Linked DNA regions of Homo sapiens: region 1 is linked to region 2. The links come from fine-mapping of genetic effects on gene expression. A gene starts in region 2. The other region holds a variant in brackets. All regions are shown on one strand. Distances are from middle to middle.

Evidence for each region. PIP is the estimated chance that this variant, and not a neighbour inherited with it, causes the effect.
Region 1: its variant is the best candidate, but not a certain one, in a credible set for the expression of DPH6 in monocytes after LPS (Fairfax 2014, PIP 0.53).

What each region holds. Positions count from the first base shown.
Region 1 is chr15:35,583,792-35,588,192 of GRCh38, reverse strand. All of the region lies in intron 1 of DPH6-DT (DPH6 divergent transcript), which reads right to left. Among named protein-coding and RNA genes, the nearest start is that of DPH6-DT, 40 kb to the right of the region's middle. The variant G/A (reference allele first, on the strand shown) is at 2,023.
Region 2 is chr15:35,543,641-35,548,041 of GRCh38, reverse strand. DPH6 (diphthamine biosynthesis 6) reads left to right here and starts at 1,877. Exons shown (of 9, transcript NM_080650.4): 1 at 1,877-1,923. The coding sequence starts at 1,901. It overlaps DPH6-DT (DPH6 divergent transcript), which reads right to left and starts at 1,847. Exons shown (of 3, transcript NR_038251.1): 1 at 1,569-1,847. RefSeq lists silencers at 1,405-1,454, 1,755-1,894 and an enhancer at 1,942-2,876.

The sequences.
Region 1 (4,401 bases), 40 kb before region 2:
ACCCGGGAGGCAGAGGTTGCAGTCAGCTGAGATCATGCCACTGCACTGTAGCCTGGGTGACAGATCTAGACTCCATCTCAAAAAAAAGGAAAATATTAGAAGTAGGGGAAAAGGCTCAGGAGTGATAGCATCATGCTGAGCTCCAAGTAGGTGGTTGTGCTTGACCTTGATAGAATATGAATTTTTCTGTGTGCCTTGGTGTTTTTCCAATCTCATTTATTTTCCAAAATTTGAAAGAGAATAGGGACTGACCTAGTTTCCAATTTTGGAGTCTTTTAAAATATTTTCTATTAATCCAGGTAAGCGATTGTATTTTGAATATTTATAGAAAGTATGACTGTTTTTAAGATTACAAAGAGGTGTTATGCTTCTGACTTCTGGTGGGGAGAAGAACAGTGACAGTATCTTTGGGTACACAGTGACACAAAGATAGGAACAATAAAAACCCATGCATCATAAAATCGCACACACACACACACATGCTCACAATCATTATGGGCTTTCACCTATGTTACCAGGTTGCTATAGTTCAAAAGTATAACAAACTGCATGAGGCATCACAATTGCTTCATAAGGGAGTCTTACTTAAAATTCAGTTTGCCATCAGCAAGTGGTAAAGATGAAAAGAATCTTATAGGATTCATACTTTGAATTAGCTTGTGAGGAAAAGAAGGTTTTCTGCCAGGAAAAGTGGAAGATGTTGCGTAGTATCTGCCATTTTTAGTTTTAGTTACTGTAATTGTTCGGGGTCAGTGAAATCAAACTTTAGGTATTTGAGTCTTTTTTCTGGCTGAACTTTTTTTGGTAATTAAAGAGCAAAAACTTTAGGAGAGTTTATTTGTAACTGTTGTTGGATGGTGGGATGAAACAATTATAATGAATTCATCTGTATCTCATTATTGCAAGCAGCAAATAAGTCTGTTGCTTAGTGATAGTGATTATAAGAGAGAAACAAGTAGAATTTCATTGCAGAAAAATATTCATTATATAAAATTTGATAAAAAGGTCATTATTTTACAGAGAAGCTCATTGAATTTAATAAGCTTTGTTACATAGAATACCTTTTTTAATATAAGATACCATGACAACTTTTACTCTTTTCCTTTATCATATTTTAAGCCCAAGTCACGTGAAATGCAATGGTCAGTTTCTTATAGCTCTGTGGTCTGTGTCATAAGAAAAATGCAAAAAGTAATAAATTATTGAGGACATCAAAGTAACAGAATTCATGCAATGACAATGTGAAACATAAGGGAAATGTGGTTTCAAAGAAGACCATGACTTACAAAAGTTTGGGATTTCTGGACTGATTTCTTGAAGCAGAAAAAAAAATAATTTCAGCAGACTTTAATTCCTCATTGCTGCAAAATAACATTTCTTTTTTAATATAGATTGGAAATGGATTTTCAAGGACCTATATAATTGTTCTCAGAGCCATAGCTGTGGCTTCCATTTGTTCTTACTATTTAAATTCAACACCTGCTGAGAACCAAAATTTCTAACCATGTAGGAGGAAGGAAAATATTAGATTTCATTTTACCATGGATGAACTCAAATCAATTTGACAAAACTGAGCTAATTTTAGCTTCCTGCCTACTGACTCCCAGTAAAAAGAGCATGAGTGAGACTATCAGTCTTTATCCCTATTAAATAAGCTACTAATTTGTTACTTGTTACTCCAAGTCATGGGGTGAACAATTGAACTAAAGCTAGGAAAGAAGTCATGTCTAAGTGCCACAAGTTCAGCAAAGTTGTAATGAGACATCATAAGTTTACAGAAGGAGAAAAGTGTCCAAGACGACATGGAATTCAAGGTAAGACACAAATAAACAGAACACCACCAGAAGAGACTGACCTTGTGGCTTAGGAGGCGTACCTTGCATTACTCTTTAAATTCCTTTTGTGATGCAAAATGATCACTGTAGAAATTGAAAAGAAATATAATGGAAAAGAAAAGCTTTATGTATGTTTAAACTTAAATAGAAAACAAGGCAGTTGGCAGTTAAATGCAAAATTAATGGT[G/A]ATTAAACAGATAACTGAGCCTATATCATTTTCAAGAAAAGTCAAATGCTTGTTCACTTGGCCCATTTGAAGCTTATGTTTCATTATGCTGTTTGGCTATTATTTCTGGAGGTAGGCATTGTGCACATATCAAAATTTACAGTCAACAGACCCTTTAGCTCTTGTCCTTCCAGTGTCAATTTACTCTAGATTTTTGTATTTGCTATAGATTTCTGCAGCTACTATAGATTTGTCTAGCATGTATTTTTTCATGTTTTACTGAATCTACTGAATCCAATTATATATTATTTTAAAGACAGTCTAGTAAAACGAACACATAGCTCTAAATAAAGAATCATCATTAGTGGCTTTCATTTCAGAATGTAAGAACAATGGAAAGGCAGGTTGATAATACACAATTTCACCTGTGAGACATGATTTTCTGTTTACACATGATCAAAAGAAAAACAAGCTTACTGACTTTAATATAGGCCATTTTTCTAACTCAGCCTTAAGTGATTTCAACCTCAAGCTTCCTATTTTCAAAGACATTGAGTCTTAAGGGACAGGCTGTATTTTAAGCTAATATGTCAAATTGATCGACTTAAAAACATATCTACCTGTGATGTACGTCTCAAACAAAATCCATAAGAAAAAATTGACAGTGTTTGTTGGAATCTAGATAAATAACCCCAATAGAATAACATTTTGAGTTAAAATAAAAAGATTTAGGTGAAATATTTCTAACTTTTAGAAGTTCATAAACAGGAACAACAAAAGAAAATCTCTCTCTCTCTTTCTGGCACTCTCTCTCTCCTTCATCGGCTTTTACTCTAACAAGTACTTCCATTTTTAGCTGTGAAGAATTGATTGATTTGAAGTTGTGCCATTGTCTTCTAATTAGTGGTAAAGATTAAAAATAGTAGTCTCTATATTATTTAGTGTTAGGCAATAACGGCATTTACTGAAAATACGGAGAATTTGTGCCCACTGGCCCTTTAATTGCCTGTGAGTTAATAAGTACTCATTAATCAATTTGAAAAGGAAACAAAATTCCTACTGATTATCATGTGAGCAATATTGCTGGGCCCTGGTAAAATGTGAAGTAAGTAAAGTTTTTTTTTGGATGCCCTGTCTTCCCAACTACTCCATTATTCTTGTTCTCTTCCTCTTCTCTTCCAACCTCCCTCCCCAACCCATAATAGTGACAATTTTAGCCCAAGTAGAAGAGGATATATGCAAGGCAGTTGTTTTGGAGAGAGGGAGGATTTTCAGCAGATGGACTTAATGACGGTAACTCTGAAAATAAATCATATGTGTGACTAGGTTAAGATGCTTTCTACAATTTTCAGTTATTGTTTTGGGGTATTTTTCAAAAAACACTTAATCAACCAGACAACAAATATTGATGATGTTTAGTATATTTTGTAGTAAGAGTGCACCTTGTTTATTCCCCTGGTCCTATAAACTAAACACACTTAAACTATCTTTTAATGATAATTCTGTTTTTACATGGTAAGGTGAGAACTAGAACTGGCATCTAAATACTTGATGTTCTAAGTTCAAAGAGACACCAGTAATTAGAGCCAGTATATTCCTTCTAGGACTTACAGAGAGACACTCTTCTAATGTAACCATAAAGACCACCAACACAACCACCTTAATCAATACAAAAGAAAGACTTGATATGGGAAAGTTGAAAATGAAGGCAATTGCTTTCCCATGGAGTAGGGCTGATGGCATACTTCTTCTTGCCAAAGTAGAGGAAGGGCCCAGTAGAATTATTCTCAATGATTGCTGGAATAGTCCTGCCTGCCGCTAAGTTGTCAACTGCTGATAATTTATTTAAAAGTTTCCAGGCTACTTTCCAGGCTACTCAGCTGATGCTGAGTGTGAAGAAAGGGCAAGAGGAATGTGGTGTATGAGAAAAGGCAGTGAGACAGCCTGTAATTCACTGTTAAATATGGACCATGATCCATGATTTTCTATGTAGACCATGAGTTAAATGGCTGGGCTTGACCTCTCTTGCCAGTATCAACTCTCTAAGCCTGTTGTACAAACCAAGGGGACCCCACCAGTAAGAAACTATACAGTATGTGGCTGTGAGAGGGAAAAAGATTAACACCAACCTGAAGCTCTCATTCCAGGAGATTATGGAGAGGGCATTACCAGGCCCTCCAAGAAAGCAGAGAAGAATGATGGCCAGTAAGCATAAATAGAGAACAGCCTCTTGAAGGGAAACAGGTAAGAAAGGAAGCTATGTCCACCAGAGAAGTGCAGGAAAGAGGGAAGGAAAATGAGCCATAAATATAACTGAATATAGAGGGAAAGGGGAAGGTTTTGAATTGAATGTAAAATGAAATCTGCAAAACACACAACACTGAGTTTAAAAAACCAGAG
Region 2 (4,401 bases):
ATCTGACACCGCCTCTTCCAGTCTCCTCATATAACTGCCTGTTAACCCCAGCACTGGGGGTTTCCTCTCTAGGCTTTGGAGCCCACTTCCATGTGTCTCTACAGGGGAGCTTCTTCCTTTCTTCACCCTTCTTTCTTGCCTATTAAATTCTCCACCCCTTAAAACCACTCCATGTGTGTCTGTGTCATTTTACCCAATTCGGCATGAGACGAGAGCCCTGGTGCTTCTTCCACTCATTGGAGCTGTATCATTTTAAGTGTGTTTCACGTATTTATCTCCTCCAATTAGACTGCAAACTTCTTAAATACTTGACTCATTTGGTAAATATTCATAACTGCAAAATCTTAAAGCTGTATGATTCTAGACGCTAAAACTGATATGTAGACTGTCACTGCTCTAGTCACCCCTACTATTAGAGTTGAGAATGTCAAAATAAAATTGAATGCTTACTATGTACCTGGCATAATTTTAAGTTCCCTACATATATTAACTTACTTAATTCATGCCTTTGGCATCATCCCTCATGACTTTCTTTCTCTTGTATCCCATATCGAATTTGATTCTATTGGCTCTATCTTCAAAATAGAGCTGGAATCCTCTTACTTCTCACCAAATTCACCATGTTGATTCTAGGCTCCGCCATCTCTCTACTGGAACACTGTAACAGCTTCCTAATAGGTGGATTCTCAACACTGCAATCCTTTTAAAATTTTAAGTCACACCCTTCAAAAGTCTGCAATTACCTACAAGACCCTATATAATCCTTCCCCTCCATCACCTTAACCTGCTCTCCACTACTCTCTGCTTTGCTCAATCTGCTCCAGCAACACGGATCTGCCTTAATCTTCCACAAACACACAACGCACCTAGAGCCTTCGATTTTTTTTTCTTGTCTGGAGCACACCCCAATCATACACATAGCGAACTCTCCTTATTTAAATTGGCTCAACTCTCATCTTACCAATAAGGCCTACATAGACACGATTTAATTCTGCAATTTGCCTCTCCACCTCTCTCCTGACTCTCCCCCACCGCACCCCGCCCCTTTCCAATAGCACTTTTCACTCTTCAACAGACTATTTACCTTTAAGATATGTATTGTCTGTTCTCTCCATCCCCATTTAAGCTCTATGCCCGGAATGCCGGGTTTTTGTTTTATTTACGGTTGTATCCACAGAGTCTAAAACAGTGCCTGGTACACGAAAGGCACTCAATACATACTTGGCAAATAAACTTAGAAGCTAGATTTTCTTTCTGCAAGGCCATTGCTCTTTGGTGAAGAGCCTGGCCTGGCCTTGTCAAATACACAAGCTTGACCAAGAGCCAAAGCCACAGAGGGCCTAGAGGTGGGGGGGGCTAGCCCCAGATTTAAAAATTACCACAGCCCCTGGGGATCTGAGTTTCACATCTGGACACACAGGTTTGGAGGACAGAGGAGATGTAAGTTAAAAAGCAGAAGTGTACAGTTGTTTCTGTTCTGTGGGGTGAGGAAGGACAAATTTCTTCTGCGCTTGCACGTCCGCAACTGTGTCAATTTGCAGCAATTGGGACGCTAAATCCCCTCTTACCAAAACAAATCCTGCGCCACTGGGCTTGGGCTCTGCAACGCGGACCTTGCCCTTCCCCCGGCAGCTTCAGTGCCCTCACTTAGGTGGTTAGGCCGTGCCTAAACCTCATTCTTTCCTGGGCCGAGATGTCCCTGCCACAGGGTCAAGGTGCCAAGGTGCCGCACCCTCCGCGCTCAGGTGTCCCGCAGGCAGCCGCGGGGCTCGCAGCGCCGATCCGCGGACAGGCGGCGGAGCGAACACCCGGGCGAGGCCCCGCGGTGCGTCACGCGAGCTGCGGCGCGACCTCCTGGCTCCCGCCCGCGCTCGCCGCACGCACGCGCACTGCGCCCAGCATGAGGGTCGCGGCTCTGATCAGGTAATGCGGTCCTGGAGCCGCCTCCTTCCTCCTAGGCCAGGCTCTCGTCCCTTCCAGCCGCCGCTAGCGCCGAAAGAGTGGGTGTCTCCGTCTGAGTCGCGCGTTGGGGGTTCCGCGGCTCCTCCGAGCCACAGGAAGAGGCGGAGCCTTCGCTGTTGCCGGCCCGCATGTGCCTCGGCCCCTGGCTGGCGCGCCTCCTCCCTGTCTGTCGCTCTCTGGTCTTCTAGCCCTTAAACTTGGATTCCCATTGGATTCAAGTGGGAAATTAAAAAAAGTACCGACGCCTGGGCCCCACCGCCAGAGGGATTGGTTTAATTACTTCTGTGCGACCCGGCGTCTGATTTTTTTTTTTCAAGCTCTAATGAGCCGTGAAGTTTGGAGCCACTACCTTATTCCATCAACTCAGTTAATAACCCTCGCCCTTTCCCCCTCGCTTTCTTCGTCCTCTTCTGTAGTTCCTTTGGTCAGCTGGGTCCGCCGCAGCCTGGCTTCCTCCCTAGTTGTAAGTGTTTCCGCCCATCCCAAGAAGTCCACCCCTCCCTCATCTTCACAGATGTGGATTGCTTATGGCATGTGTGTGTTTCTGCCTTTGGGCACTCAAGTACAGAGATCTCTCTTCGTGGTAGAGACCGAATTGTACTAGTCTTATGCTAGATCCAGTTGCTGTTGCTTCGGACTCTCATCATTGCTTTAGAGTGACCTTACCCTATACTCCGTATTCCAAAAGGAGTTTGATGTCTGTAGTAACCAAATCATAAATTTAAGTGTCTAAATAAGTCCTGTGACTGACAAACCAAAAACAAACCTGCTTAAATATTTCCATACTCAATCTATAAACTGAGGCAGAAGGGAACACACTAGCAACATTAAAAAGTTAGACTACTTAAATACTTGTTTCATGAGATTTTGCCCTGTAGAGTGTCTTAGATACAGTGCAACGATGTGCTTGCTTTTGTAATCCAATTGAAGATTTCATAAACGTTTTCGTTAAGTCCCTTAGGTAATTGATACTGGCTGTAAGTTTTGACCTATTAAGGACTTGATATGAGATTTCAGACCTACTGTAGTGTCTGGAATATTCCGGTTCCCTTTCCTTCAATGTCATTTTTAGGAGACTAGACCATAATGTCACAATAATTATTGTTGTTCAGTAAATGTCCTCTGTAACATAAATGATTAAGCTTTAACCATTGTGTCTTATTTTAAGAATTAAAAGTACCCCAGGAAGTGAATAATTCAAATTTACATCGCTTGCCAAAAGTTTAACGATTAAAGTAAAGCACAACAAACAAAGACTTAGAAGTATTGGAGGGGAGGAGAGAAGATTGGTAGAGTCAGTTACACTAAATAACCTGTAATGTGCATATGTTGCTTTATAATAAAAAAAGTTTGCTAAAAAAGCAATGTTGGAAAATTCTTGCTGAAGCGTAAGAGCTGTAAGGACATATGCTGTAAGTATGAATACGTAAGCATTTACCTGTATGCTTATGATACAGATGCCTATGTATTCTATATATATGCATTATATATAATTATGTATTATAAGTGAATAAGTGAAACTGGGATTCTTACATATCTTTCTAAGAAGATTATTTTCCTTTTTTAAATTTTTTTTTTATTATACTTTAAGTTCTGGGTTACATGTGCAGAACGTGCAGTTTTTTTACATAGGTATACATGTGCCACGGTGGTTTGCTGCACCCATCAACCCATCACCTACATTAGGTATTTCTCCTAATGTTATCCCTCCCCTAACCCCCAAACCCCCACAGGCCCCAGTGTGTGATGTGCCCCTCCCTGTGTCCATATGCTCTCATAGAACATTATTTTTCTAATAAATAAATGAGTCTTTGAATTTTATAGTTGAATGTTATTTTGAGGATTATCCAGGCAGACCATTCATTAATTTGCAATGAAGTATGCAAACCTAAGCACATTGAATAACTTAGCTTAGTATCCCAGAGTTGGAAACTAAAATAGAGCTGTGAGACCTCTCACCTAACATACATGTGTACTTAATGGAGTTCTAAGAGGACAGTAAGGTACTCTGCATTTCCCAAGCTTGTCTGATATTCAAAACCTTTTGTTAGAGTAATTGGTTAGTATTTTGTTGGACACCAGTGTTCCACAGAACACAGTTTGGTAAATACTGCTTAAAACCATATTTGAAATGTTGGCATATTTCAAAATAAATTGTCAGACTCAGTTCTGATTCTGGATGCACACCCTTCAGTCTTTAATATCTGAAACAATTAGTCATATCTTTTTATCCTGGGGAATCAGAGCAGTAAGGTTCGATATGGGAAGTTGTGGAAGACCTACTTATGGGGATACCGAACCTGAAGAGAGGAAGAATGGACTTTTTAAAACTTCACTTTGGCCCTTGTGCTCTCCTTCCACTTGAGAAGTTTTGGAATGAGAGTTGTTATTGATGGGAGGGTGGAAGAGGCAGAAATGTTGAAAACTAAGATAAAAGGC